Homo sapiens: one gene and its partner. Changing the gene in region 2 together with the main gene of any one other region gives a genetic interaction. Each region holds a gene or a part of one and is shown on either strand. Other genes may lie near its edges. The genes, in order: FUS and UPF3A.

Evidence for each region.
Region 1: of UPF3A (region 2) and FUS, extra expression of one rescues a mutant of the other (dosage rescue), as found in Homo sapiens cells (one study listed by BioGRID).

The regions. Positions count from the first base shown.
Region 1 is NC_000016.10:31,166,927-31,183,211, reverse strand, and holds the start of FUS (RNA-binding protein FUS), read right to left. Parts: upstream 3,074-16,285; 5' UTR 2,998-3,073; coding exon 2,985-2,997; intron 815-2,984; coding exon 790-814; intron 700-789; coding exon 548-699; intron 1-547. UniProt on the Homo sapiens protein: DNA/RNA-binding protein that plays a role in various cellular processes such as transcription regulation, RNA splicing, RNA transport, DNA repair and damage response. Binds to ssRNA containing the consensus sequence 5'-AGGUAA-3'.
Region 2 is NC_000013.11:114,287,840-114,303,221, reverse strand, and holds part of UPF3A (regulator of nonsense transcripts 3A), read right to left. Parts: intron 11,734-15,382; coding exon 11,678-11,733; intron 11,622-11,677; coding exon of another isoform or gene 11,589-11,621; coding exon 11,430-11,588; intron 11,424-11,429; exon of another isoform or gene 10,638-11,423; intron 10,552-10,637; exon of another isoform or gene 9,501-10,551; intron 7,872-9,500; coding exon of another isoform or gene 7,770-7,871; exon of another isoform or gene 7,114-7,769; intron 4,383-7,113; coding exon 4,222-4,382; intron 1,492-4,221; coding exon 1,197-1,491; exon of another isoform or gene 1,171-1,196; intron 1-1,170. UniProt on the Homo sapiens protein: Involved in nonsense-mediated decay (NMD) of mRNAs containing premature stop codons by associating with the nuclear exon junction complex (EJC) and serving as link between the EJC core and NMD machinery.

The DNA of each region.
Region 1 (16,285 bases), on a different chromosome or scaffold from region 2:
ATAGCTCACTGCAGCCCCAAACTCCTGAATTCAAGGGATCCTCCCGCCTCAGCCTCCTCAGTAGCTGGGACTACAGGTGTGCCACAATGCCCTGTAAAGGACTCAGATCCCAAAAAGTTTTAAGACTTATACACTGTTTCACGGAAAAGAAATATGGAACAGTTTCAACATCTCAGTGCTGCTCAGGTTTAAGAAAAGCAACATTCAGGGCATTGTGGCTGACGCCTGTAATCCCAGCACTTTGGCAGGTCAAGGCAGGCAGGAGGTCAGGAGTTCCAGACCAGCCTGTCCAACACGGTGAAACCCCATCTCTACTAAAAACACAAAATTAGCCAGGCGTGGTAGCAGGTACCTGTAATCCCAGCTACTCAGGAGGCTGAGGCAGGAGAATCGTTTGAACCCGGTAGGCTGATGTTGCAGTGAGCTGAGACAGCACCACTGCACTCCAGCCTGGGCAACAGGACCAGACTCCGTCTCCAAAAAACAAGAAAAAGAAAAGCAATATTCAGAAAGAGTAGGAAGAGGTGACCCGCTGAGAAAGACTCACTGTTCTGGCTCTGGCCATAAGAAGAATAGCTGCTCTGGCCATAGCCTGAAGTGTCCGTGGACTGGCTATAACCACTGTAACTCTGCTGTCCGTAGGGCTGACTGCTCTGCTGGGAATAGCCCTGCCCGGGCTGGGTGGGGTAGGCCCCATAGCTAAATAAAAGGAAAACCAGCGTGATCAGAAAACATGGCGTGACCACCCTTGCCCTCTACAAACTCTGGAAGCCCAAAAATAGCACTCACCTTTGGGTTGCTTGTTGGGTATAATCTGCAAAAGAAAAATACAATCACATTATCTTCAGCTGCCACTCTGAAAGAGTTGAATTAAAGCTAAATTCCTTAACTCAAGCACTGATGAATAAAAAGGACCACGTAGGCCAGGCACGGTGGATCATGCCTGTAATCCCAGCAGTTTGGGAGGCCGAGGTGGGTGGATCACTTGAGGTCAGGAATTCGAGACTGGCCTGACCAACATGGTGAAGCCCCATCTCTAATAAAAATACAAAAAATTAGCCGGGCATGGTGGCGCACGCCTGTAATCCCAGCTACTCGGGAGGTGAAGCAGGAGAATCGCTTGAACCCGGGAGGCAGAGGTTGCAGTGAGCCATTGCACTCCAGCCTGGCAACAGAGCAAGACTCCATCTCAAAAAAAAAAATAAAAATAGGACCATGTTGCAACAAAGGGCATAAAATTCCTCCATGAGACACTGGTTGAGAAGAGGAACAAACTGGCGTTATCAGCCAAGTGTTCTTACAATAAAGAAAAAGTGAAGAAAATGCAAGTTTCTACAGAGTCCCAGAAGCCTTAACCATTGGAAAAACCAAGGTCTTGGTGGACATCCACAATTTTCTGCAAGCCCAATTCATGTCAGTGATTGCTCTAAAACATCGCGCATTCGTTTCATCCACTCTATGAGAAAGCCATTATCGCCAGGAGTCAAGAGACTAACTCTCCCAACGTCGCAGAACTACCAAAGTGGCACAGGTTTGAATTCGAACAGTGTTCAGATTGTGGCCTCTGCTCTCTCAGCCCAGACCCACAGAATAAGAAAGTCTCAAAAAAGGCCATTCTTCACTCTTTGACCAATCCCGGAGATGAAGTGGGCTTTTTAGTGCAAAGCCAGAGAATCAAAAGAGCCCTTGGACCCCAAATGACAGAGATCATGCAACTGCTCGCCTTAGGAGGCGAAAGTCAACAGGTACTCGAGTCCCCAGCCCTGGGACTCCAGATGGTTCCGTTTTCTCACCTACCCTGCCTTCCCCCAGCGAACAAAAAGCAACAAAAGCGCTTTTGAAAAGCCCCACTTAAGATACACGAACAAGATCAACTCATCCTCCCAGCACAGGAAACGCGGCGCTTCCCCCGCAGGAAAAGGGAAAGAGGACCAGGAGAGGGTGTGGCCTCGGGCGGCCGTTCTTCTCCGTCCCTATCTCAGAAAAAAGAAATTTAGACCAGGCGTGGTTGGCTTACGTCTGTAATCCCGACACTTCGGGAGGCCCAGGCGGGCGGATCACCTGAGGTCAGCAGTTCGAGACCAGCCTGACCAACATGGTGAAACCCCGCCCCTACTAAGAAACACAAAAATTAGCCGGGCTGTGGTGGCGGGCGCCTATAATCCCAACTACTCAGGAGGCTGAGGCAGAAGAATCACTTGAACCCAGGAGGTGGACGTTGCAGTGATCTGAGATCGCACCACTGCACTCCAGCCTGGGCGACAGAGGAAGACCGTGTCTCCAAAAAAAAAAAGAAAGAAATTTAGGCGGGAAAAACTCTCGGGCCGTCCCCAAGTCCGTTGGTCGAACCCTGACCACCGCCGCCAAACCGTTAAGCTAGAGGGCGGCCCCGATCCCGAGCCTCCGCCCCCAGCCGCGTGGCAACCCAGGCGGGAACGGAGCGATCCCGCCCATTCGCGAAGGACCACTGAGGGACAAGGCTCACACCGGACGCGCGCCGCCGAGTCTTCCGCGAAGGGTCTCGCGACAGAAAGCTGAACCAACACGAGGCGGGGAAGGGGTACCCGCGCCGCGAAGGGGGAGGGGCCCGCAGAGCGCGTGCGCGCCGCGAGTGCCCGGATGCAGCACTGCGACAAAGCGGGCTCGAGCGCGGGGCCGGGAGTTGGGGGAGGCGAGGCCACGGAGAATGGGCGTTTTCCACCCTCACCTGACGCTTCAAACCCCTAAGAAGCGTCCCTCCCAACGCCCACCCCAAGCAAACGGACTGCAAAGAAAAGACTTCCCGCCCCGCGCGCGAGGGCCAGAGGAGCGAAACAAAATGGCGACACCAGCCTCCTCCAGTTACTCTTCTCCGCGGCTTCCCGCCACAGGGGCGCCAAAAAATCCCACACGGGATCGCCGCCCCGGTCCCACTGAAAACGAAAAGCCCAGCTGGGAGGCCTCGGCCGGGTGCGCCGCCGCCGTCGCCTCGCGCCCTTACCTACCGTTTGAGGCCATGTCCGCGCACGCGCGCACAGGCAAGCAAGCAACGAAGTTCCAACACCGCTGAGTACCGACGCCTGGAGGACTGAGCAGCCCCGCCTCCTGCGTCGAAGCTTAAGTACGCTCCGCCGCCTACGCACCGCGCAGGCGCGCACCAAACGCGGAAGAGCAGGGGGAGGCAGGAACGCACTCCGCCCCCTTCGTAGGGCAGGTAGAGGGTCCGAGCAGGCAGAAGGGAAACAAGTTAACTAGAATCATGCGAATACTATACATAATCATATTTTTTGAGGAAGAACCCCTCTCTCCTCGGCAGGACTAGCCCACGATCTATCTCCACCCCCATGAAGGCACAGTGGTACGGCCTGAGTGCCCGCTGGGGGCGGGGCGAGGGGGCGGTCCCGGCGGCTGGGGACGAAACTGGAGTCACAGCCGGGAGTAGCGGGGTGGAACCGAGATTCCTGTGGCCGGGCCCCTTCGCTGGGCCCCGCTTTCACCCAGGATGGCGAGCTCCTGCCCTCCACCCTCTTGCCGCTGTATGGGGCGCCTCGTCCCCGCGGCTCCAGCCTCCCTCGTCGGCAGCACACTGGCCCTCCCTCTCCTGCGCCCTGAGGTTGACTTCGTCGTCTTTCAGGGTTGCCTTGCCTTTCGGCCTTTCTGGGGTTCGGGGATTATGACGTTTGACCTGAAAGACAGCAGGGATTTCGGCCGGGACCCCTGGGCCCCGGGCTCGTCCAGCACTGGGCTCTCACCCGGATCCTCATGGCTTTGCCCCTGGGGAGCCACGGGGCGGAACAGCCCAGGCCATCCTTGGGACCAGAGAGGGTTGACCTCAGATGTACGGTACCCAGCCTTTTCTCAGGGACCTCCTTTTTATTTTTCTGAAGCCCTACCAGGGCGATCCCAGAAATAAAACGTGTACAAGGCTTAAGTGGTTTCAAAATGCACAGATAATTTCCTTGTCATCAGTCTTACGAAGGAAGTAAAGATACCTCCGTTTTCTAGATAAGGAAAGTGAGACTCAGAGACCCAAGTAATTGTGCCTGATTACAGGGCAGCTAAGAGGAGTCGTGATTCGAATCCAGGTCTTGTAACTGCAAAACACTCCTCTTTTTGGTGGCATGAATGCTAGAGTGTTTGGTCGCCTTTTCACTTCCTGTGAGAGCAAAAGCAAAAAGAAACATTCAAATTAACTTGCAACTTGCACTTTCATCAGCCTTGCCTGGAGAAGGCAATTTGAAACTACTGAATAAAACAAGACAAAAGACGTTAATTCCTGATACATAGGCATGCAGGTTTTCCTTCCCAACTTAACCTTTCAGCGGGATTTCAGAAGGTCCTTTGAGGGTTGGACACGTCTTTCTAGAGAAACAATGAGGGCCATGCCCTGGGCCCGCCCACAAATTAAGCCCCACTAAGCCCTTGACTTCAGCCCTAAAGGCCCTGAATATGCCAATATCCACCCCACCGCCTTTGGAAGGAGAGTTCAACTCTCCAGTGAGAGCAAAAGAAAGGAAGTCCACCCTTATTCATGCATTAAGTCACAAATATTTATTTAGCACCTAGTATGTTCCAGGCACTGTTCTGGGCACTGGGTATGCATTCGTGTACAAAGCAGATGAAGTTAACATTTAATAATAAAGCTGACCGGGTGCGGTGGCTCACGCCTGTAATACCAGCACTTTGGGAGGCCGAGGCGTGTGGATCACGAGGTCAGGAGTTCGAGACCAGCCTGGCCAACATGGTGAAACCCCGTCTCTACTAAAAATACAAAAATTAGCCAGGCGTCGTCCGCGCATCTGTAATCCCAGCTACTCAGGAAGCTGAGATGGGAGAATCGCTTGAACCCAGGAGGCGGAAGTTGCAGTGAGCCAAGACGTGCCACTGCACTCCAGCCTGGGCAACAGAGCAAGACTGTCTCAAAACAAATAATAATAATAAAGCTGACATTTAATAATGATATACATTGTGCTCATCTATAATATGTAATAGCTAACACTTTAACAAGACTTACTGTCAGGCCCTGTTCTGACTGAGTAAACTCTTGATTTTATTTTTCACAACAAAAGGCTGATGTGAGGATGACATTTTATCTTTTTTTTTTTTGGGGGGACACTGTCTCACTCTGTCACCCAGGCTGGAGTGCAGGGGCGCCGTCTCGGCTCACTGCAACATGTGCCTCCCGCGTTCAAGTGATTCTACAACTTCAACCTCCCAAGTAGCTGGGAGTACAGGTGTGCGCCACCACACCCAGCTAATGTTTGTATTCTTAGTAGAGACGGGGTTTCACCATGTTGGCCAGGCTGGTCTCGAACTCCTGGCCTCAGATGATCCATCTGCCTTGGCCTCCCAAATTGCTGGAATTACAGGTGTGAGCCACCACGCCCTGCTAAGGATGACATTTTACAGATGAGGAAATAAGCATAGAAAGACAGGCAGTTGACCGGGCACGGTGGCTCACGCCTGTAATCCCAGCACTTTGGGAGGCCAAGGAGGGCAGATCACAACGTCAGGAGTTCGAGACCAGCCTGACCAACATGGTGAAACCCCGTCTCTACTAAAAATACAAACATTAGCCAGGCATAGTGGCGCGCACCTGTAGTCCCAGCTACTCAGGAGGCTGAGGCAGGAGAATTGCTTGAACCCCGGAGGCAGAGGTTGCAGTGAGCCGAGATCGCGCCACTGCACTGCAGCCTGGATGATAGAGTAGAGCAAGACTCTGTCTCTAAAAAAAAAGAAAGACGGAAAGTTATGCTGAAGCTACACAGGAAGTGGCAAAGCTGGGTTCCCAAGCCAGGTAGCCTGCTCTTAACCCCTGCGCTTCAGCAAACATTGCCTGAGCACTGCATAGTATGTTCCAATCATGGGGCCGACTGGATGGATATGGATAAAAAAAAGCTCAGTTCCTAAACCACAGGACCAGCCAGTGGGTGAATGTGGGTGAGACACACAGACCACAAAGTGTACTTGAGTGTAGTAAGTGCCATCACATGGAATCAAAGACTGGAAACCCTGCCAGCAGAGTAAGTCATCCATCAGGTGGACAACCACAGAACACTAAAGAGAGATGGTAACCCTGAAGCCAAGGCTTACTGGATAAGTAGAAGTTTGCCAAGCAGCAAGGGAGGAAAGGCTATAATAGGCAGAACCGCGAAGACAAAGGCACAAGTGGGGAAGACACTGAGGCAGAGTTCAGGCTCCAGCTGTGACTCTGGGCTGGGCATGGTGGCAGATGAGACTCGGCCTCAAAAAAAAAAAAATATGTGACTCTGAAAGACTAAATCAAATGGCCATTTCTTTCTTTCTTTTTTTTTTTTTTTTGAGATGGAGTCTCACTCTGTCACCCAGGCTGGAGTGCAGTGACGTGATCTCAGCTCACTGCAACCTCTGCCTCCCGGGTTCAAGCAATTCTTGTGCTGCAGCCTCCCGAGTAGCTGAGATTACAGGCATGCATCACCATGTCCAGCTAATTTTCCTATTTTTAGTAGAGACGGGGTTTCACCATATTGCCCAGGCTGTTCTCGAACTCCTGATCTCAAGTGATCCACCTGCCTCGAATGTTTTAATTTTTTTAACTAGTTGCCAACACTAAAAATAGTGGGCCATTCCAGGCCCACTTCCATAGGGCAAGGGTCAGCTGGAGTGAGACACTGTCACCTTTAGCTGCCATATGTGCTTTAAGTTCACCATAAATGTCTTATTTACTTCCTATCTCTGACAGGAAAGTCAATGTTAAATTTTTCTTTTTTGAGACAGGGTCTTGCTATGTTGCCCAGGCTGGTCTTGAACTCCTAGGCTCAAGGGAATCCTCCCAAAGTGCTGTGATTAAAGGTGTGACCACCACACCCAGTTTCAATTAACATGTATATCAGATATTGGGCCAGATGCGTTCGCTCACACCTGTAATCCCAGCACTTTGGGAGGCTGAGGTGGGCAGATCATGAGGTCAGGAGTTCGAGACCAGCCTGACCGACCTGGTGAAACCCCATCTCTACTAGAGATACAGAAATTGGCCGGGCATGGTGGCGCGCATCTGTAGTCCCAGCTACTCGGGAGGTTGAGGCAGGAGAATTGCTTGAGCCAGGGAGGCAGAGGTTGCGGTGAGCAGAGATTGTGCCATTGCACTCCAGCCTGGGCGACAGAGCAAGACTCCATCTCAATAAAAAAATAAACACGTATATCAGATATTGATTTTTTTTTGAGACAGAGTCTCACTCTGTCACCCAGGCTGGAGAGCAGTGCTGCAATCTCAGCTGACTGCAACCTCTACTTCCCAGGTTCCAGCAATTCTCCTGCCTCAGCCTCCTGAGTACCTGGGATTACAGATGTGCACCACCACACCCAACTAATTTTTTTAGTAGAGATGAGGTTTCCCTATGTTGGCCAGGCTGGTCTCGAACTCCTGACCTCAAATGATCTGCCTGCCTTGCTTTCCCAAGTGCTGGGATTAGAGGCATGAGCCACTGCACCCAGCTCAGATATCCAGATATTTATTTAGTTAGTTAGTTTTAATTTATTTATTTAATTTTTTTGTTTGTTTTTTTGAGACAGAGTCTCCCTCTGTCACCCAGGCTGGAGTGCAGTGGCACAATCTCAGCTCACTGCAACCTCCGCCTCCGGAGTTTGCAGTTCTCTGCCTCAGCCTCCCGAGTATCTGGGATTACAAGCTCCCACCATTACGCCTGGCTAATTTTTTGTATTTTTAGTAGAAACAGGGTTTCACCATCTTGGCCAGGCTGGTCTTGAATTCCTGACCTCCTGATCCACGCGCCTCGGCCTCCCAAAGTGCTGGGATTACAGGTCTGTGCCATCGTGCCAGGAAGTTACATATATATATATATTTATTTATATTTATATATATTTGTTTGAGATGGAGTCTCGCACTGTTGCCTGGGCTGGAGTGCAATGGCGCGATCTCGGCTCACTGCAATATCTGCCTCCCAGGTTCAAGCGATTCTCCTGCCTCAGCCTCCAAGTAGCTGGGATTACAGGCACCCGCCACCACGCCTGGCTAATTTTTTGTATTTTTTTTTAGTAGAGACGGGGTTTCACTATGTTGGCCAGGCTGGTCTCAAACACCTGACCTCGTGATCCACCCCTCCTCGGCCTCCCAAAGTGCTGTTACAAGCATGAGCCACTGCGCCCAGCCCCAGAATTTATTTTTTAAAGACAAGGTCTCATTTTGTTGGCCAGTTTTGTCTTGAACCCCTGGCCTCAAGCAATCTTCCTGCCTCGGCCTCCCAAAGTGCTAGAGTTACAGTTACAGGCATGAGCCACTGCGCCTGGCCTAGATCAAATATTTAATGCAATTTTTCTTTTTCTTTTCTTTTTTTTTTGAGCAGGGAGAGGTTGGTTTTCACATTTCTAGTGGGAGCCATGGGAGGGTCCTCCTTTGGCAGTGGAGGTGCTCACAATTTCTTCAGCCACTCCAAACTGGGGCCTTGGGGGTCCTGGGGGTGGCTGGGCACATCGGGCATGTTCCCATCATTGCAGACAGGCACTGGGTAGTTGTAGGGCCTTGCCTCGTTGATCATGATGGAGTACTTGGTGTGGGGACTAAGTGGGGGTAGAATTACAGTGAGGCTCCGGATGACAGAGGACAAGACCAGCACTGGCTCCTTGGCCCAGGAAATCTTGAGGAAGGTGCTGAGTCTCGTGGCCTTCTTGGTCTCGGTGGTGATGACAGCGGCCTTTTTTTTTTTTTTTGAGATTGAGTCTTGCTCTGTCACCCAGGCTGGAGTGCAGTGGCGCGATCTCGGCTCACTGCAACCTCCGCCTCCCAGGTTCAAGCAATTCTCCTGCCTCAGGCTCCCGAGTAGCTGGGATTATAGGCACGTGCCCCTACGCCCAACTAATTTTTGTACGTTTAGTAGAGATGGGGTTTCACCATGTTGGCCAGGCTGATCTCGAACTCCTGACCTCATGATCTGCCTGCCTTGGCCTCCCAAGCGCTGGGATTACAGGCGTGAGCCACCATGCCTGGCCTCCTTTTTTTTTTCTTTTGAGTTAGGATCTCAATCTGTCACCCAGGCTGGAGTGCAGTGGTGCAATCAAAGCTCACTGCAGCCTCAAATTCCTGGGTTCAAGCAATCCTCCAAATTTGGCCTTACCAGCATCTGGGACTACAGGCCTGCACCACCATGCCCAGCCTCTATTTGGGTTTTTGTTTTTTTTTTTTTTTTGAGACGTAGTCTCGCTCTATCACCCAGGCTGGAGTGCAGTGGCACGATCTCGGCTCACTGCAAGCTACGCCTCCCGGGTTCAAGCGATTCTCCTGCCTCAGCCTCCAGAGTAGCTGGGACTACAGGCGCCCGCCACCACGCTTAGCTAATTTTTTTGTATTTTTATTTTTAGTAGAGATAGGGTTTCACCATGTTTGTCAGGATGGTCCCAATGTCCTGACCTCGTGATCCACCCGCCTCAGCCTCCCAAATTGCTGGGATTACAGGCGTGAGCCACTGTGCCCGGCCTCTATTTGGGTTTCTAAAAAAGAAAGAGGGCCAGGCTCAGTGGTTCATTCCTGTAATGCCAGCACTTTGGGAGGCCGAGGCAGGAGGATCATTTAATAACATAGTGAGACCCTGTCTCTACAAAAAAATTAAAAATGATCTGGGTTTGGTGGTGTGTGACTGTGGTCCCAGCTACTTGGGAGGCTGAGTCTGGGGCAGGGGGGTGGGGTACTATCCAAGAGGTCAAGGCTGCAGTGAGCTATGACTGTGCCACTGTACTCCAGCCTGAACAGCAGAGTGAGACCCTGTCACAAAAAAAAAAAAGAAAAAAGAAAAAGAGAAGGAGAACAGTTAGGGATATATATATATATGTGTTTACTTATGCATAAAATATCTCTGGAAGAAGAAAAACAAGTCATAGCCTATTTCTGAGGAAGGAATCTGGGGAACTTGGGGTCAAGGATTGAAGGAAATTCACTTTTCCTAGATCCTTTTATATTTTAATTTTTCACTATGTGCATATAATGACCAATTTAAAAGCAAACTGACTCCTACAATGCACCACAGCATGGTAGCTGAGGAGGGTATTATACAGGGTAAGACCTGCCACAGGGGAAGAGTGATTACTTTTGCAGTGAGTAGGGTGGGTCAGCCTTCACTGAGGAGTTGACTTTTTTTTTTTTTGAGATGGAGCCTCGCTCTGTCGCCCAGGCTGGACTGCAGTAGTGCAATCTCGGCTCACTGCAAGCTCCGCCTCCCAGGTTCACGCCATTCTCCTGCCTCAGCCTCCCAAGTAGCTGGGACTACAGGCGCCCACCACCATGCCCGGCTAATTTTTTTTTTGTATTTTAAGTAGAGACGGGGTTTCACTGTGTTAGCCAGGATGGTCTCGATCTCCTGACCTTGTGATCCACCCGCCTCAGCCTCCCAAAGTGCTGGGACTCAGGCGTAACCCACCGCACCCAGCTATTTTTTTTTTTTTTTGAGATAGGGTCTCGCCCTGTCGCCCAGGCTGGAGTACAGTGGTACAATCTCTGCTCACTGCAGCCTCAATCTCTTGGGTTCAAAAGATCATCCCGTCTCAGCCTCCCCAGCAGCATACACCACCACGCCCCAGCATTTTTGTTTTTTGTAGAGACTGGGTCTCATCACATTGCCTGTGGCCGGCAAGCCACCCAGGCGCCAAGGCAAGAGACCGAGGACATGAGCTGTTCCAGTATAAAAAAATATAAGACAAGAATAGTTATACCAGATATAGATCTTAGATATGATTATATATGAATATCATTAATCATTAGTTTGTAGCAATTACTCATTATTCCAATATTATAATAATCCTCGCTGTATAATCATAACCTAGGAGAAACCAGGCCATACAGAGATAGGAGCTGAGGGGACACAGTGAGAAGTGACCAGAAGACAAGAGTGCGAGCCTTCTGTTATGCCCAGACAGGGCCACCAGAAGGGCTCCTTGGTCTAGCGGTGACCCCAGCGTCTGGGAAGACGCCCATTGCCAAGTGGACCGTGGTCTAGCAGTAGCGAAAAGTGTCAAGGAACAACACCCGCTGCTTAGCAGACCGGGAAAAAGAGTCTCCTTTTCTCTGGGGGAGTTTAGAGAAGACTCTGCGCCTCCACCTCCTGTGGAGGGCCTGACATCAGTCAGGCTCGCCCGCAGTTATCCGGAGGCCTAACCATCTACCTGTGATGCTGTGCTTCAGTGGTCATGCTCCTAGTCTGCCTTCATGTTCCATCCTGTACACCTGGCTCTGCCTTCTAGATAGCAGTAGTAAATTAGTGAAAGTACTAAAAGTCTCTGATATGCAGAAATAATGGTGTAAGCTGTCTTTCTCTTTGTCTTCTCTCTCTCTCTGCCTCGGCTGCCAGGCAGGGAAGGAAGGGCCCCCTTTCCAGTGGACACAAGACCTTACCTATCATTGGAGATGACTCACACTCTTTACCCTGCCCCTTTTGCTTTGTATCCAATAAATAACAGCACAGCTAGACATTCGGGGCCACTACCGGTCTCCACGCATTCGTCGTAGTGGTCCGCCGGGCCCAGCTGTCTTTTCTTCTATCTCTTAGTCTTGTGTCTTTTATTTCTACACTCTCTGGTCACCGCACACAGGGAGAAGCCCACCGACCCTGTGGGGCTGGTCCCTACAATTGCCCAGGCTGGTCTTAAACTCCTGGGCTCAAGCAATCCTCCTGCCTCAACCTCCCAAAGTGCTGGTATTACAGGCATGAGCAACTGTGCCCAGCGAGGAGTTGACATTTCAACTGAACGAATGAAGCATTTCTCAGTACAAAAACTGTACGAACAGAAGAGAGCAAGCTTGACCCAGAGCCTGTCCTGGCCAGGCACTTTAGCTGGGTTCTTGTATGTATTTATATTTTAGAGACAGGACCTCGTTCTGTTGCCCAGGCTTCTTGAGTGCAATGGTGCAATCATAGCTCACTCTAACCTCGAACTCCTGGCCTCAAGCAGTTCTCCCACCTCAGCCTCCCAAAGCGCTGGGACCACAGACGTGTGCCACTGCCCTAGCTGGGTCCCTGTAGAAGGGCAAGGGAGGAAGAGCAGGCGTGTAGAAGGGCAAGGGAGGAAGAGCAGGCAAGGCCCTCCCCTCAGGAGCACTCTGGCCTGGGGAACAGCGTGGAGGGATGGTGAGAGATGGCTGGGGCCAGACCCAGGCCCCACCTCTAGCCTGCTGCACATCTTTGTGCAAATTAGGAAAAGGCATCCCTTCCTCCAGGCAGAAACCCACCCCCCGCCCAACTCTGCCCCCCAAGGCCGAAGACTTGGGGAGGAGAGCAGGAGCTGAATTTTACTCAGCCCCATTTCAGCTCTGAACAGAGGATTTCATGCAGGACGAAACGGTCACATTCCTAAGCAGAGGCACTGAGGTATGAGACAACCTGCTATTTCACATCACTCAAAACAACAGGCTTGGGATTGCTCACACCTCTAATCACAGCAATTTGGGAGGCAAAAGCATGTGGATTTCTTGAGTCCAAGAGTTCAAGACCCCAGGCTGGTCTTGAACATGGCGAAACCAGTCTCTACAAAAAATACAAAAATTCGCCAGGCTTGGTGGTACACGCCTGTGGTCCCAGCTACTCAGGAGGCTGAGGTAGGAGGATCTCTTAAGCCCTGGAGGCAGAGGTTGCAATGAGTGGAGATTGCACCACTGCACTCCAGCCTGGGAGACAGAGCAAGAACTGTCTCAAAAAAAGCAACTTCTACTGGGAATATTAAATGACATTTCCATCTGCAAATACCCTTAACTGGGCCTAGAACATAGTAGGCATGAATAAATGACCTTTTCTCTCTCACTCGTCCTTCAAGATGTACTGCTTCAAGCAAGAAATAATTGCTTTATTATCTCCTTGGGCAGTGCCCAGGACAGGAAGTGCCCCTGTCTGCATGGGGCCCACTCAGATTTTGTGTCTCTAGGAGAGGTTGTCATGGTACACAGACTGGGAAAGTAAATGCTGGGCAGATAATTGGCCTGTGCTAAGAAAAGACCTGCTTGGACCAACTAGAAAAGAGCAACACAGGACAATAGTGGAGGGAAGGTCAGCAGATAAACAAGTGAACAAAGGTCTCTGGTTTTCCTAGGCAGAGTGTTTGTGTCCCTGGGTACTTGAGATTAGGGAGTGGTGATGACTCTTAACGAGCATGCTGCCTTCAAGCATCTGTTTAACAAAGCACATCTTGCACCGCCCTTAATCCATTTAACCCTGAGTGGACACAGCACATGTTTCAGAGAGCACAGGGTTGGGGGTAAGGTCACAGATCAACAGGATCCCAAGGCAGAAGAATCTTTCTTAGTACAGAACAAAATGAAAAGTCTCCCATGTCTACTTCTTTCTACACAGACACAGCAACCATCCGATTTCTCAATCTTTTCCCCACCTTTCCCCCTTTTCTATTCCACAAAACCGCCACTGTCATCATGGCCCGTTCTCAACGAGCTGTTGGGTACACCTCCCAGACGGGGTGGTGGCCGGGCAGAGGGGCTCCTCACTTCCCAGTAGGGGCGGCCGGGCAGAGGTGCCCCTCACCTCCCGGACGGGGCGGCTGGCCGGGCGGGGGACTGACCCCCCCCACCTCCCTCCCGGACGGGGCGGCTGGCCGGGCGGGGGGCTGACCCCCACCTCCCTCCCGGACGGGGTGGCTGCCGGGCGGAGACGCTCCTCACTTCCCAGACGGGGTGGCAGCCGGGCGGAGGGGCTCCTCACTTCTCAGACGGGGCGGTTGCCTGGCGGAGGGTCTCCTCACTTCTCAGAAGGGGCGGCCGGGCAGAGACGCTCCTCACCTCCCAGACGGGGCGGCGGGGCAGAGGCGCTCCCCACATCTCAGACGATGGGCGGCCAGGCAGAGACGCTCCTCACTTCCTAGATGGGATGGCGGCGGGGAAGAGGCGCTCCTCACTTCCTAGGTGGGATGGCGGCCTGCCAAATCCCCCTCTGTGAGAAACACCCAAGAATGATCAATAAAAAAAAAAAAAAGCAAAAACAAAGAAGGAAGAAGCCATTTGTACCTTAGTATGAACTTAAAAACGAGGTTAAACACTAAAAAAAAAAAAAAAAAAAAATGAAAAGGGCAACACAGTGCTGGGTCTGAGGGAAAACTGCAGAAAGTCCTCCTGGAGGCAGGAAAAGGGCCTGGGGCAAGGTATGCAATAGTCACAGTGATAGATGGGAAATTGACCAATCATTGTGCCAGGTCTATTTCCAAACAGGTTAAAGGTCCCAGGGAAACAAATTGAGCGTCCTGGTACCTGGTTTGCAAAAATGCAGTGTGGCCAGGCACAGTGGCTGACACCTGTCATCCCAGAGCTTTGGGAGGCTGAAATGGTGGGGGATATCACTTGAGCCCAGGAGGTCAAGGCTGTAGTGAGCTATGATTGAACCACTGTACTCCAACCTGGGCCACAGAACAAAACTGTTTCTCAAAGACAAAAACAAAAGTGTGCCAGGCGCTGTGGCTCATGCCTGTAATCCCAGCACTTTAGGAGGCCAAGGCAGGCGGATCACCTGAGGTCAGGAGTTCGAGACCAGCCTGACTAACATGGTGAACTCCTGTCTCTACTAAAAATACAAAAATTAGCCGGGCGTAGTGGCGTGTGCCTGTAGTCCCAGCTACTCAGGAGGCTGAGGTGGGAGAATCGCTTGAACCCGGGAGGCAGAGGTTGCAGTGAACCGAGATGGCGCCACTGCACTCCAGCCTAGGCAACAGAGACACTGTCTCAAACAAACAAACCAAAAGTGTAACTTAGGCCGGGCATGGTGGCTCACGCTGTATTCCCAGCACTTTGGCATGCCGAGGCAAGCAGATCACCTGAGGTCAGGAGTTTGAGACCAGCCTGGCCAACATAGCAAAATCCTGTCTCTACTAAAAATACAAAATGTTAGCTGGGCATGGTGGCAGGCGCCTGTGATCCCAGCTACTCGGGGGGCTGAGTCAGGAGAATCGCTTGAACCCGGGAGGCGGAAGTTGCAGTGAGCCTAGATCGCGCCATTGCACTCCAGCTTGGGCAAAAAGAGTGAAATTCTGTCTCAAAAAAAAAAGTGTAAAGTAAAAGGATCTGTTAACAATTCCATATCATTTGCCTTTTTCAAGGACTCTGGGCTACAGATTCTCTAGCTCTAAATAGGAAAAGGGAGAAGAGTGAGAGAGGGTATCAGTACAGGGGCTTCTGAACAAATACGCAAAAGAACGAAGAAACTTCTTTATGCTTAAGGCCAAGCTCAGTGGCTCACACCTGTAATCCCAGCACTCTGGGAGGCCAAGGTTGGAAGATCACTTGAGCCCAGGAGTTCGAGATCAGCCTGGGCAACATAGCCAGACCCAGTTTCTACAAAAACTTTAAAAAATTAGGCCGGGCGTGGTGGCTCACGCCTGTAATCCCATCACTTTGGAAGGCCGAGGCGGGAGGATCACCTGAGGTCGGGAGTTGGAGACCAGCCTAACCAACATGGAGAAACCCCGTCTCTATTAAAAAAAATACAAAATTTACCAGTCATGGGGGCCCATGCCTGTAATCCCAGCTACTTGGGTGACTGAGGCAGGGGAATCACTTGAACCCAGGAGGCAGAGGTTGCGGTGAGCCAAGATCGCGCCATTGCACTCCAGCCTGGACAATAAGACTGAAACTCCGTCTCAAAAAAAAAAAAAAAATTAGCCAGGCATGGTGGTACATGCCGGTAGTCCCAGCTACTGGGGAGGCTGAGGAGGGAGGATCATTTAAGCCCAGGAGTTCAAGGCTGCAGTGAGTCGTGATTGCGCCACTTCAGCCTGGGCGACAGAGAGAGACTCTGTTTCAAAGAAAAAAAAAAGAAGAAGAAACTTGTTTATGTTTGACCCTGCAAGGTGATTTAAACCCTAATATGCCAAATATGTATGTATACTTTTTTTCAGATTAATTTGCAAATATTTCCAGGAAGATACATGTAAAACTACTGAGAAGAGTTCTTTCTCTGTGGGACAGCTAAAAAAAAATTACACACATTTGGCCAGGCGCAGTGGCTCACACCTGTAATCCCAGCACTTTTGGAGGCTGAGGCAGGCGGATCACAAGGTCAGGAGTTCGAGACTAGCCTGGCCAACATGGTGAAACCCCATCTCTACTAAAAATACAAAAATTAGCCAGGCATGGTGGTGGATGCCTGTAATCCCAGCTACTCAGGAGGCTGAGGCAGGAGAACCACTTGAACATGGGAGGTGGAGGTTGCAGTGAGCTGAGATCACGCCACTGCACTCTAGCCTGGGTGACAGAGACTCCATCTCAAAAAAAAAATTACACTTATTTATTTTTTATTTATATTTAGACGGAGTCTCGCTCTGTCGCCACGCT
Region 2 (15,382 bases):
GCACCCCGAGGTCCAGGCAACCCCAGAGAACTGGAGTATTCTAGAGGTGTTCATTCAAGGGTGAAGACAAGAAGGCTCTCCTCTGGCTTTCAGCCTTGACTTCACTGAAACTTTTTTTTTTTAGAGGTAATTTTGCTTTTCTTGCCTAGGCTGGAGTGCAATGGCATCATCTTGGCTCACTGCAACCTCCGCCTCCCAGGTTCAAGCAATTCTCCTGCCTCAGCCTCCTGAGTAGCTGGGATTACAGGCGCGCCACCACGCCCAGCTATTTTTTGTATTTTTAGTAGAGACAGGGTTTCGCCATGTTGGCCAGGCTGGTCTCGAACTCCTGACCTCAGGTGATCCACCCGCCTCAGCCTCCCAAAGTGCTGGGATTATAGGTGTGAGCCACCATGCCCAGCTACACTGAAACAGTTTCAAAGTGAACATCGTTCATACACACAACAACCTGGAAGGATCTGAAAGGAATTAGACTGAGTGAAGAAAGCCACTCTCAAAGCTCACATACTGTGTGTTTCCATTTATCAAGCATTCTTGAAATGACAAAATCACAGAGGCAGAGAACAGACAGTGGCTGCCAGGGGTTAGACATGGGGAGGGAGGTGAGTGGGAACTGGAACCCTAGGCAGCCCTCAGTTTGCTAGGAGGCCAGGGTGGGGCCTGGTGCTGTCAGAAAGGTGATGCCATCTGTAGTGCTGCGCTGGGAAAATGCAACCTGAACAAAAATTAGCTCCTGAAAAAAAAAAGTTGTTTGCTTGGCTAAGGGGGTAACCACAGTCCTGTGCTCACCGTCCGTGCAGATCTAACTTACAGGTGTTTGTGAGCCATGGGAATATTCACCAATAATCAGAATGTTGTTAATAATGTGGAAGAAACCTCCATGAAATATCATTAAAACTTTCCTTCCTGTCTCAAGGGTAAATTTAATAATCTTATTCTCAAGTGAATCATATAAACGTGCTAGTTTTATACTAAATAAAATCTTTCTTTTTCCTGGTGAAAAATAATTTGATTATCTGAGAAAAGATGATGACTAGTCTCACTCTGGGATCTGACTTTCAGGAAAAACTGCTCTTGAAAATGCTCAAAGCACTGCGTTCCCCAAGACACAAGGCCAAGTGGGGGTGACATGGTCAGCATGCAGCCTGGACCTTAAGACAGCCAGACACATTTTTCTTTTTGGGTTTAATAAAAACCTTGTTTGCCAGTCGCTCTTTTCTGGGTGCTGGACTGTCGTCACACCTCTGCGCTCTTCCCAGTCTCTCCATGGCCTCCCCCGGAGCCCCGCTGTCCTGGCTCCCCTTCTTCCCTCTGTCTTGGCCAGGTCCTTTCCCCCATCTCTGCTCATCCTCACTCCTTCTGGAAAGCCGTTCAGGCTCGTGGTGAGCTCTGTGCCTCCTGCCGTCATCCACATGGTATCTTTGTGCTTCAGATTCTTGTTCTTGAGATCTCTCCACATCCCTGTGCTCTTTATCACTGCCGCTGTGTGACCTATGATTCAACACAAATGATCAGCAACTGCAGTAAACCGCCGGTTGGCTGCCCACCCTCCTTTCTAGACCACAGGTTCCCAGACAACAGGGACCCATGCGAAGTGCTCAGCGCTGCACTGCTGAGGCTGCACTGCGATGGGCACACAGCAGGCGTTGATAAAAACCACTACAAAGAGGAATAAATCATAGTAATAGTATCTGTCATTTCAGTTGAGTGACAGATAGGCAATATGCCTTATACTAAGGTACTTTTTTTTTTTTTTTCTGAGATGGAGTCTCGCTCTGTTGCCCAGGCTGGAGTAAAATGGCGGGATCTCAGCTCACTGAAAGCTCCGCCTCCTGGGTTCACACCATCCTCCTGCCTCAGCCTCCCGAGTAGCTGGGACTACAGGTGCCCGCGACCACGCCCGGCTAATTTTTTGTGTATTTTTAGTAGAGACGGGGTTTCACTGTGTTAGTTAGGATGGTCTCGATCTCCTGACCTTATGATATGCCCATCTTGGCCTCCCAAAGTGCTGGGATTACAGGTGTGAGCCACCGTGCCTGGCCATGCTAAGGTACTTTTTATACATATTTTCTAATTCTCAATAACCCTCCAAAGTAAATACCTTCTTTTGACCAGGCATGGTGTCTCACGCCTGTAAATCCCAGCACTTTGGGACGCCAAGGTGGGTGGGATCACCTGAGGCCAGGAGTTGGAGACCAGCCTGGTCAACATGGTGAAGCCCCCTCTCTACTGAAAATACAAAAATTAGCCAGGTGTGGTGGCATGTGCCTGTAATCCCAGCACTCTGGGACGCCAGGGGCAGGCAGATCATTTGAGGTCAGGAGATTGAGAGCAGCCTGGCCAACATGATGAAATCCTGTCTCTACTACAAATACAAAAATTAGGCCAGGCACAGCGGCTCACACCTGTAATCCCAGCACTTTGGGAGACCAAGGCAGGCAGATCTCCTAAAATCAGGAGTTCGAGACCAGCCTGACCAACATGGAGAAACCCTGTCTCTACTTAAAATACAAAATTAGCCAGGCATGGAGGGGCATGCCTGTAATTCCAGCTACTCAGGAGGCTGAGGCAGGAGAATTGCACGAACCCAGGAGGCAGAGGTTGTGGTGAGCTGAGATCGCACCATTGCACTCCAACCTGGGCAAGAGGAAAACTCCGTTTCAAAAAAACAAAAAAAAAACAAAAATTAGCCAGGCATGGTGGCGGGTGCCTGTAATCCCAGCTACTTGGGAGGCTGAAGCAGAATTGCTTAAACCTGGGAGGCGGAGGTTGCAGTGAGCCGAGATCGTGCCACTGCACTCCAGCCTGGGCGACAGGGCGAGACTTTGTCTCAAAAATAAAATTAAAATAAAATAAAATAATAAAACAAAATAAAATAAACCTTCTTTTCTACAGATAAAATGACTGAGACTAAAGTGGTCCAGTGGCTGTCCTGGGAGCCCAGGTGCACATCCATCATGATGTGCAGAGTAAAATTAACTGACATTTAATAATGGCAGATTAATTATCTTTATGCATTTATCAGAATATTAAATGAATAGTAAATAAATGGCTGCTTCGCTCATTTGCCAGGGCTGTTGGGGACCATAAGGATCTGTAACCAAGTATGAATTCACAGCAGACACGTGGCAGTAGGTCCTGCTGTGTCATCAACTGTCACAGTAACAACACCGGTAACATCATCACAGTGCTTCACAATCATGGATTTGATAATCATATATAAATTTTATAAACAAAGCAATAAACCAAAACTCCCAAGAAGTAGAAAAAATACTTCATCAACTCTGAACGAAAGGCAGTGAGAAATCACACCTACGACTATGGCTCTGGGAAGCCGGCAGCCTAATCGCATTAGTCTTCCCACCTAAAATCCACGTCCATCATCCCCTGTGGGCCAAGTGGCCCTGGGCACCAGGAGACTGTGGGTGGCGAGAGGCAGTGAGTGGGCAGGAGTCCCGGAGGGGAAGGTAAGCCCAGGTGCCTGGGGCCCTGAGGATGGTGGATGCCAGGAGCAAGAGGGACAGGATCCCTCCTGACTGGCATCTGGCTGGTCTCTCTGGCCCACCGGGCAGATAATGCTGTGTCTGTCCCTTTCGCAGATGAGCTCCCTCCATAGAGCTGCACTGTCATATGCAGCAAAGGAAAAGAAAAAGGGAGGACCCACAGTGCACAGCCAAAGCTGCTGGTCAAGATCCACAGCCAGAGGAGCCAGGGACAGCTTCAACCAAAGGATCACAGCACTTAAAATTCTGTTTCTCTATCACAAAAGATCTGCCAGACCTAAAAGAGGGGGTTCCCAAATATGCAATTCTGTAGATAAATTGCAAGGGGGATAAAAGAGCAAAGGGCAAGATATCACAAACACAGAGAAAAATAAAAAACAAAAAACAAAAAGAAAGACTGGGAAGACAGATCCTGAAGACCTGACATGCAACAGCAGGAATCCAGGAGGCGGCTCAGGAGTAAAAGGAGGACATGGAGGCAAAAGCAAAGCAAACAACAGGAAGAAACTCCCGATCTGAAGACAGACTTGAGACTGCAGACAAGACGAGTTCACTACGTTCCTGCCATGCTGATGGGAAATGAAGGCTAACGTGTACTCGCACACCCTGGAAAGTCTTGGATTCCAAGAACAGTGTGAAATAGGCATACTCATACTGACAAAGCCTACGTCACCATGACTGGGAGCTGACGTGGTCATAACAATGAAAGCACGCTCACGTCTCCTGGGGCTCCTCCAGCGAGCCTTCCATGGGCCTGGCTTTTACGACTGCACCGGGGGCACAGGATTCCTGCTTGCCACCTCCAGTATCAATCTCCTCTCCTCTTTCTTTTGGTTTCTCTGTGGTTGGTTCCTCTCCCTTTTCTGGTTTCTTAAGAAGCTGAGAAATTACAATGTTAGTAAAGTATCACCTTGAGAGCATATTTTAAAAGAAGCTGTTAAATAAATAATTACAAATATACCCCAATATTGAAGCCAAATGTTTGCACAGCAAAGAATTAAAGCTAAAGGTCCAAAAATGAGGTTTTTGGTTTAATACGTGGTGGAACATTCAGTGAATGAAATATTTTTTAGTCATGAAAAGTAAGGTAGGTTAATGTGATGCAAAGATGTTCACGTAATGAATAAAGGGCTAAAAAACAGAACATGCACCACAATCTCACTTACACTTTTCTCTTTTGAGACAGAGTCTCGCTCTGTCGCCCAGGCTGAAGTGCCGTGGCGCACTCCCGGCTCACTGCAGCCTCCGCCTCCAAGGTTCAAGTGATTCTCCTGCCTCCACCTCCTGAGTAGCTGGGACGACAGGCATGCGCCACCATACCCGTCTAATTTTTTTTTTTTTTTTTGAGATGGAGTTTCACTCTTGTTGCCCAGGCTGGAGTGCAATGGCACGATCTTGGCTCACTGCAACCTCCTCCTCCCGGGTTCAAGTGATTCTCCTGTCTCAGCCTCCCAAGTAGCTGGGATTACAGGCGCCCACCACCACGCTCAGCTAATTTTTTGTATTTTTAGTAGAGACGGGGTTTCAGTATGTCGGCCAGGCTGATCTCAAACCCCTGACCTCAGGCAATCCACCCACCCTGGCCTCCCAAAGTGCTGGGATTATGGGCGTGAGCCACCGTGCCCAGCCCCCACTTCTATTTATGTTCACACACACACCACCACCTAAAGGGCTCTGCAGCACTGTATTAATAGTGATTATTTCCTTTTTTGAGATGGAGTCTCGCTCTGTCGTCCAGGTTGGAGTGCAGTGGTGCAGTCTCGGCTCACTGCAACCTCCGTCTCCTGGGTTCAAGCGACTCTACTGCCTCAGCCTCCTGAATAGCCAGGACTACAGGGGCGTGCCACCACACCTGGCTAACTTTTGTAGTTTTTGTTTGTTGTTTTTTTTGAGACGACGTCTCACTCTGTCACCCAGGCTGGGGTGCAGTGGCTTGATCTCAGCTAACTGCAACCTCTGCCACCCTGGTTCAAGCAATTCTCCTGCCTCAGCCTCTCAAGTAGCTGGGATTACAGGCTCCTGCCACCGTGCCTGGCTAATTTTTGTATTTTTAGTAGAGATGGGATTTCATCATGTTGGCCAGGCTGGTCTTGAACTCCTGACCTGTGATCCCCCAGCGTTGGCCTCCCAAAGTGCTGGGATTACAGGCATGAGCCACCATGCCCGGCCAATAGTGATTATTTCTAGATGGCAGAACTGAAATGACTTTATTTCCTTTCATCTATAGGGTCTAGTTTTCCTGACATAGACAAGTATTAGTTTTGTAATAAGGAAAAAAAAATTTTTAAAAGGCTGCTTCCTACTGATGATTTTTAGAATAGTTTATAGTTTTCAAAACACTGATTATTCTCTTTCCTGAAACAGAATTAATGAACAAGTCGCCACGACATATTTCATCTGCCCTGTATGCCCCTGGCCTTTCTCCCTGCTCTCTGTATAGTTTTTGAAACTAAAGCACCTCAGCTAACTTGAGAAAAGGGAGAAAAAAAAAAAAAACGGAAGCACCACAGACAGATCATTTGTAGAACAGAAATGGAAGGTGTACATCTGAGAATTCTGTTCTCACTCATAATTGCAGCATAGCAAGACCATACACAGATGCATTCAATCACACGTGTTCACTTGGGAACACAACGCATCATGCAAGGTGGAGCATTGGAAGCCGCTTCTCATCAAGCGTGGGCCCCATGTCAGCTGTGAACATCCTCTTATTCTGCCTATGTGGAATCTGGGAACTTAAACATTTCCTTTCTGGTAACTGCCCATCTTTTATAAAAATTGCAACAGTAACATGTCTGTAATAAATGTGAACCATAGGAAGTGCAAATCTCCATCCACCCATTCAACAAATATTCTGTGTGCCTAGGAACTGTTCTTACATTTCTGACACTGCACGTCTTTTTCAATACCACCCCTCCGACACCAGCTGCGTGCTCCACATTCAACTCAACTCTGAGATCATCGACCTGGAGTTAGCACCAGAACCCACGGGTCAAGGGCTCAGTCCCACAAGACTGCCCCCCTTTCAGACGACAGTTCCAAGTCCCAGTGTGTCACCGGTACTTCTGACCAGTCAGCAATAAATTCAGGGGTTCCCGATGGCCTCTCCTCAGATTTGGTAAGTTGCTGAAATGGCTCACAGAACTCAGAAAGGCACTGTTTTCTCGATTATTGGCTAATCATAAAGGATACAACCCAGAACAGCCAAACGGAAAAAATGCACAAGGTGGGTATGGGGTATGGTGTAGTGGTACTTGGAGCTTCCATGCAGTAACCCTCCCAGCACCTTGATGTGCTCACCAACCCGGAAGGCCCGTCTATTTTTTTTATTTTTTTTGAGATGGAGTCTTGCTCTGTCACCCAAGCTAGACTGCAGTGACGCGATCTCGGCTCACTGTACCTTCGCCTCCTGGGTTCAAGCGATTCTTCTGCCTCAGCCTCCTGAGTAACTGGGACTACAGGCATGCGCCACCATGCCTGGCTAATTTTTGTATTTTTAGTAGAGACGGGGTTTCACCATATTAGCCAGGCTGGTCTCAAACTCCTGACCTCGGGATCCACCTGCCTTGGCCCCCCAAAGAGCTGGGATTACAGGCGTGAGCCACTGTGCCTGGCCCCTGGAAGCCCTGTCTTTAGGCATTATTAAGGTTTCATTATGTAGGTGTGACTGATTAAGTCACTGGCCACCGGTGACCTCTCTCTAGGCCCTCTGCCCTCTCGGAGGCTAGGGTGGGACTGAAAGTCCCAACCCTCTAGTCCTGCCTTGGCTTTCTGGCCAACTAGTCCCCATCCTGAAGCTGCCTGGGGCCCCCAGCCCCTAGTCCTCTCATTGGCATATAAGACACTCATATTACTGCAGATTCCCGAGGTCTGAGGAGCTGTGTGCAGGAACCAGGGCCTAAGACCCTGTGCTAGGCACTAGGGAATGGCTGTGAATGAGACAAGAGGTGCCCCTGCCTCGAAGGAACTTGCGCCTGATGCACCACCTGAGGCAACGGTGGTCAAGGGGGAATGCTGTGAACAGTGGCAAAAATATGAAAAAGGAAACAAAGGAATAAGATAACCTCAGGTAGCATCAAAAGCTACGAACAGACATGAAGGGAGAGTAAAGCATCAGAGACGCAGGAAGAGGAGGGCCCAGGAGGGCTCTCTGCAGAGCCAAGACGGGAACTAAGACCAGATGCCAAGAAGGAGCCACGGGCACATCTGGGGAAGTCCCTGTGGAGGGAAACGTGCGGAGTCCTGAGGTGGAATCCGCTGGTGCATTCATGAGAAACCAGCAGGCCAGAGCCGCTGGAGACGAGCTGGGGAGCACGCCAGAGCCGCTGGAGACGAGCTGGGGAGCACGCCAGAGCCGCTGGAGACGAGCTGGGGAGCAGGCCAGAGCTGCTGGAGACGAGCTGGGGAGCAGGCCAGCTCTGCCACGCCCTGCAAGGCTTCCGGAGGCCAAGCGGAGCGCATGGGCAGCTGTGCTCCCTCCCAGCCCTCGCCTGTGTGTGTTCACCCATGTGGCCACACATAAGCTCACTGCTTAGCATCCTCAGAGGAACATTAAACAGCTGAGCTGTTCTGTGTGCCGTATTTCTTTTCTTTTTTTTTTTTTTTTTGAGACGGAGTCTTGCTCTGTCGCCCAGGCTGGAGTGCAGTGGCGCAATCTTGGCTCACTGCAAGCTCCGCCTCCCGGGTTCATGCCATTCTCCTGCCTCAGCCTTCCAAGTAGCTGGGACTACAGGCTCCCGCCACCACGCCCAGCTAATTTTTTGTATTTTTAGTAGAGATAGGGTTTCACCGTGTTAGCCAGGATGGTCTCGATCTCCTGACCTAATGATCCGCCCACCTCGGCCTCCCAAAGTGCCAGGATTACAGGTGTGAGCCACCGCGGTCCAGCCTTTTTGAGACGGAGTCTCGCTCTGTCGCCCAGGCTGGAGTGCAGTGGCGTGATCTCAGCTCACTGCAACCTCTGCCTCCCAGGTTCAAGCGATTCTCCTGCCTCAGCCTCCTGAGTAGCTGGGACTACAGGCGTGTGCCACCACGCCCAGCTATTTTTTTGTATTTTTAGTAGACATGGGGTTTCACTGTGTTAGCCAGGATGGTCTCGATCTCCTGACCTCGTGATACGCCCGCCTCGGCCTCCCAAACCATATTTCTCTTTATTAAGAATAGCCATGAGTGCTACGCACGGTGGCTCATGCCTCTAACCCCAGCAGTGGGAGGATCACTTCAGCCCAGGAGTTCAAGACCAGCCTGGACAACATAGTGAGACCCCCACTTCTACAAATTTTTTTTTAAATTAGCTATTCAGGTATGATGTTGCACCCCTGTAATGGGAGGCTGAGGCGGGAGGATCACTTGAGCCTGGGAGGTAGAGGCTGCAGTGAGCTGTGACTGTGCCACTACACTCCAGCCTGGGTGACACATTGAGACCCTGTCTCAAACCCCCCCCCCACCAAAACCAAACAAAAAAATAGCAAAATAGCCATGAGCCATCTGTCTTTCTTTAAGCTGTTGATACACCTTCTTTTGCATTTCTCCACAGATTCCATTTTTCAGGCATTAAAAGAATTTCAATTTTCCACATGATTTAGAAGTGAAAGACCCCCATACTGAGCACAGATACTTATTAAAAGCTAAACCAGGCCAGGCATGGTGGCTCACGCCTGTAATCCCCAAACTTTGGGAGGGTGAGGCAGGAAGATCACTTGAGTCCAAGAGTACGAGACCAGCCTGGGCAATATAGTGGGAACCCCATCTCTACAAAAAACAGAAACAGGGTCTCTCTCTGTTGCCCAGGCTGGTCTTGACCTCCTGGGCTAGAGCAATCCACCTGCCCTGGTCTCCCAAAGTCCTGAGATTATAGGAATGAGCCATCATACCCAGCCAACTTTTCTGTTTTTGACTGCTGACCATATCAGAAACAAATCTATGGTTCAATGATCTCTTCCCCACCCTTTCCTAAGCTATCTTCTTTCCCCAAGTCCTGACATTTCATTTTTTTCCTCATATTGTACAATATTATTGAATATAAGGTATTCAATAAATAATAAGTAATGAGTGATACCTTAGGTTCAAATCTAGGTTTAGTACTGAGGAGATAATGGCTGGTCCCAATTCTGGCCAACACATTTCACACAGAGAAAAATTCCCTCTATGTATTAAACCACCCTCATAAATGAATGTATCAGTCACAGAAAAAACTCAGCAAGAAATACAGAAACTCATTAGTGCTACTGCCAAAGAAATGATAAAACCCGGTTCTGAGTCAGCCTTCACACAGAAAGGCAAAACCAGTGGTTTTCAAATGTGTATTTTTTAATCAGGGAAACTTTTTTTTTTTTAAGACAGAGTCTTGCTCTGTTGCCCAGGCTGGAGTGCAGTGGCGCGATCCCGGCTCGCTGCAACCTCCGCCTCCTGGGTTCAAGTGATTCTCCTGCCTCAGCCTCCTGAGTAGCTGGGATTCCAGGCACACGCCACCACGTCCGGCTCATTTTTGTGTTTTTAGTAGAGATGGGGTTTCCCCATATTGGCCAAGCTGGTCTCAAACTCCTGAACTCAAGTAATCCGCCTGCCTCGGTCTCCCAAAGTGCTGAGATTATAGGTGTCAGCCACCCCACCCGGCCAGGAAATTTTTTTTTTTTTTTTTTTTTTTTGAGAGGGAGTCTTGCTCTGTCGCCCAGGCTGGAGTGCAATGGCGCGATCTCGGCTCACTGCAACCTCTGCTCCCTGGGTTCAAGCGATTCTCCTGCCTCAGCCTCCTGAGTAGCTGGGATTAAGGCGTCCGCCACCACACCTGGCTAATTTTTGTATTTTTAGTAGAGACAGGGTTTCACCATGTTAGTCAGGGTGATCTCGAACTCCTGACCTCGTGATCTGCCCGCCTCAGCCTCCCAAAGTGCTGGGAGGAAAACTTTTTTTTAAAGGAAAATGTAGAGGGTGGAGAATGGGAGGAGGGTGAAGACTGAAAAACATCAGGTACTGTGCTGATTACCTGGGCAACAAAATTATCTGCACACCAAACCCCAGTGACACTTGATTTACCCATGTGACACACCTGCACGTGTACGCCTTGAGCCGAAAATGAACACGTAACACACCTGCACGTGTACGCCTTGAACCGAAAATGAACACGTAACACACCTGCACGTGTACGCCTTGAGCCGAAAATGAACACGTAACACACCTGCACGTGTACGCCTTGAACCGAAAATAAACATGTGGCACACCTGCACGTGTACGCCTTGAGCCGAAAATGAACACGTAACACACCTGCACGTGTACGCCTTGAACCGAAAATGAACATGTGGCACACCTGCACGTGTAAGCCTTGAGCCGAAAATGAACACGTAACACACCTGCACGTGTACGCCTTGAGCCGAAAATGAACATGTGACACATCTGCACGTGTACGCCTTGAGTCGAAAATGAACACGTAACACACCTGCACGTGTACGCCTTGAGCTGAAAATGAACATGTGACACATCTGCACGTGTACGCCTTGAGTCGAAAATGAACACGTAACACACCTGCACGTGTACGCGTTGAGCTGACAATGAACATGTAACACACCTGCACATGTACGCCTTGAGCCGAAAATGAAAGTTGGAAAGTTTAAAAAAAAAAAAAAAAAAAAGAGCGTCAGCAGCAGCCCAACGTGTGCCAGCGTGGGGCTCCTGTGGGGTGTGCTCCCCACTGCACACCCAGGAGGACAGGCACCCAACAGCAGCCTGAGGACTCCCAGGGCTCAGGACGCACTGTGATAACCACTGCTGTAGGATGGAAAGAAAGATGGAAAAGATGGAAAAAAATAACAACACAATATTAGATTAATTCAGAATGTTTTCAAAATTCTAAAGAACTAAGATATGTAAAAAGTGTAATTACTATAGCAGAGCTATTTTTGGAAAAAGGAAATGTTTCCTCAGAATTACCTTAATCCTTACTTCTTTCTCTGCAATTTTCTTCTGTTTATCTGTCTCTTTTTTTTTGCATCTTTCTTCTTCTCTTCTTCTTCTTTTTTCCTCTTCCCGCAAACGTTTCTTTTCTAACTCTCTCCTCCTCCGTTCTTCTCGCTTCTCTTCTCGAATTCTCTAAAGACATGGAAGAGCGTGTGTATAAACTGCCTGGATGAGAATGGCAGAAGCAGGGAGGGTGTTCATCAGGTAAAGGCCAGACCTACCTGCTTTTCTAATTTTCTATTTTTAATATATTCCAAAAGAGGTGTGGTTCTTCTAGCTAAAACACAAAAATTGTAATATTGTATTTAACTCCTAAAGAAAGATGTATTTTAAATACTTGTTTTGAATGTAATCTTTAAAATAAATACGGGAACCATATCATTACTTTTTAAATTTACACACTGTCTCCAGGGGAGTTTTTATTCCATTACTGTCAGGTCAAGTAATTTGAAAGTATCAACAATTTCATACATAGTAGACATCTAATTCCTGATTCTTAAGGGAGGCTTAAAATATTCCAAGATGATATTTTTGTAGGTGCCTTAAATCATTAAATAACATATATTTATTTTGATACATCGCATATTCTGAGAACTTTTTCGTTTTCCGTTCTCCAAGCAACAGTTTTAAAATAACATGGATTCTTGTAATGTCTTACAATATATACTCCATAAAATCCCAATGATAAGACATACAACTCTGGATTGTAGTTTAGAAAATGACTCCACATGGGCCGGGCGTGGTGGCTCACACATGTAATCTCAGCACTTTGGGAGGCCAAGGCGGGCAGATCACCTTAGATTGGGAATTCGAGACCAGCCTGACCAACCTAAGGAAACCCCGTCTCTACTGAAAAAATACAAAATTAGCCGGGCGTGATGGCACGCGCCTATAATCCCAGCTACTCGGGAGGCTGAGGCAGGAAAACTACTTGAACACGGGAGGAGGAGGTTGCAGTGAGCCGAGATTGCGCCACTGCACTCCAGCCTGGGCAACAACAGCGAAACTCTGCCTCAAAAAAAAAAAAAAAAGAAAAAAAAGAAAAGAAAAAGAAAATGACTCCATATGGCGCTGCTGATTGCAGAAAAGGCACCAACTACTAGGGAATGAACATTTCTACAGACTCTATCTTGGTCCTTCGCTTTCATGCCCGACCTCTCAGATCTGACCTGGATGTGGGTGCCCAGGCAAGCTAGAGGCCCCACAGGCCCCACCTCAGAGGGACTTGCGCTGACATGGACAGGCCCCACATCCCACCAACACAAGGACACAAATGGGAAGGGGGAAGACGGGGTCTACTCTGTGGGTCTGTAAGATCTCAGACTAAACAGGGCTGGGAAGAATCCCTGGATGTACCTGAAAACTGACACATCATCTCTGGAATTCTGAGGACCAGGAATGAATCAGGAATCATAGGAGAAGCCCTGGCCAGGGATCCATCACTTGGAACTGAGAACCCCTGACACCCTGACATCATAGATGAAATGGCACCTGTCCCAGAAGCCCTTCCCCAGGGACAGTCTGTGGTTGTAGGGAAGAGCCGATTGTCCCAGGAGCCCTGCCCCAGGCACAGTGGTTGTAGGGAAGAGCTGATGCAGGTACAAATGCCACATTTCGTGGCAGACACAGTTGCCACAGAGAACACTCCCCCAGGGGTCCCTGGGCTGACCATGAACTCTGGCTCAGGGTGAGTACAGCACACTGGCTCAGGTAAATGGTCAGCTCTTTGTAATGGGCAAATTATCTCAAATCAGCCAGGGTTCTGCTCTGCTCTGTGGAAAGCCTGAACTTGTCAGCCAGGAGCCGGGCGAGACCACCTGGATGTGTGGGGAGGCTGACCCCAGACTCCGCTTGCCCACCTTCCTCTTCCTATAAAATGTCTGCCCTATCACCCACAGGGATCACGGGCAAAGTACGTTAGACCCTGAATAAGAAAGTGTTCTACACATCATAAAAGTATGTTATTTATCAGACAGAATACGCACAACCATGCAACAGAACACAAGTAAACAGAAGTCTCAGAGCTGAACCCAGGCCTGTCTGCTCTAAAGGCCGATGCTAAAGGCCGATGCACCAGACTAACTCAACAACTCCAGAGTCCTTGCCAGAAACAGCTTATTAGTATTTCCATTTAACACTTGCTTCTCAGACCTGTGCAGAAGAATCCACTGGAGGCCAAAAGCTTAGAAAAGAAAAAGGTAATCTGCCATGAATTGCCTAAAATTTTTTTTTTTTTTTTTTTTGAGATGGAGTCTTACTTTGTCGCCAGGCTGGAGTGCAGTGGCGTGGTCTTGGCTCACTGTAACCTCCGCCTGCCGAGTTCAAGCGATTCTCCTGCCTCAGCCTCCCAAGTAGCTGGGACTACAGGCGCATGCTACCACGCCCAGCTAATTTTTGTATTTTTAGTAAAAACGGGGTTTCACCATGTTGGCCAGAAAGGTCTCAATCTCTTGACCTCATGATCTGCCCGCCTCAGCCTCCTAAAATGCTGGGATTACAGGTGTGAGCCACCGCACCCGGCCAAGTTTCAATTTTTCATACATAGAAACAGCAATCACAGAAACAAGGAAGACTCTACAGCCAAGTCCTGGAATGAATTAATCGCTCCCATCAGGGATGGTGGGTTCTAAGCCACATTCATTCATTCATTCAGCCAACTTTTGTGAAGCATTGGCTGTGCAGCAGACTCTCGGGGAGGTGCCAGGACATGCCCCCCTCTCCCCACCCCGGCAGGAGCCACGTGTCTGCCCCAAAAAGGTATGTCTCAAAACAGCCCTAAAGTGACCGATCCTTTGCAAGGGGACATTTAAAACAAAGTGAGATGGAAATGGGAGGGGCAGGGAGATGAGGCCTGTAATAACGTCTAATTTGCTGCTTCTAGCTCTTCTTCAATTTATCAAGTTCTTAAGTGAAATCTCGACTTTGCCCCCAATACTGTCCTACCCTCATGTTCCCTTGTGTATAATGGTGCCACAATCCACCCATCTGTTCAAGCCAAGCACTGGAGTCTTAATTCTTCCTGTCCCCTTACCTCCCACACCCTATCCGTCTGTCGGTCCTGTCCAGCCCACCTCCAAAACACACGCTCATCTCTTGGCATCCACAGTCTATCCCATGTGACACCACCAAAGTGACGGGGACAAATAATCAGACCATGCTACTCCCCCAGTGGCTTCCAGTTGCCCTGGAATGAATCTAAATGTCTTGCAGTGCCCTGAACCTCCAACCACGCTGCCCTCACCCATGTGTGCCAACCCCACAAGCCTGCACTCTGCGCCTGCAGTGAAAAGCGACAGCAGCCGGCCCTGCCCCTGGCGCTTCCTTCCTCCACTGCTCAGCACGGCCAGGCTCAGCTCATCTCCTGACCTCTTTCCCTCCCGCAGCCAGTCTCAGCTCCAGCTCCACCACTATCTTGGAGGGAGTCTCCCAACCTCTTTCCCTCCCATATTCCACTTTGTCACATCAGTGGCAGTGATTACACACTGAGGTGCCCTGGTTGGACTATTCCTGCTCCTGCTTCCAACCTGTCATCCCGATGGTAGGCAGAGGCCTTGTGCAACCTGCTTACCACTTGGCCCCATGCTGAGGCCCAGAGTCAGTGCCCAGGCAGCATGCAGCCTCAGCATATTTTGTTTACTTTAGTGATCAAAAGCCTTATTACGGCTAGGTGTGGTGGCTCACGCCTGTAATCCCAGTACTTTGGGAGGCTGAGGCAGGCGGATCATCTGAGATCAGGAGTTCAAGACCAGCCTGGCCAACATGGTGAAACCCATCTCCACAAAAATATAAAAATTAGCTGGGCATGATGGCGGGTGCCTGTAATCCCAGCTACTCAGGAGGCTGAGGCAGAAGAATGGCCTGAACTGGGAAGGCAGAGGTTGCAGTGAGCCGAGATTGTGCCACCGCACTCCAGCCTGGGCAACAGA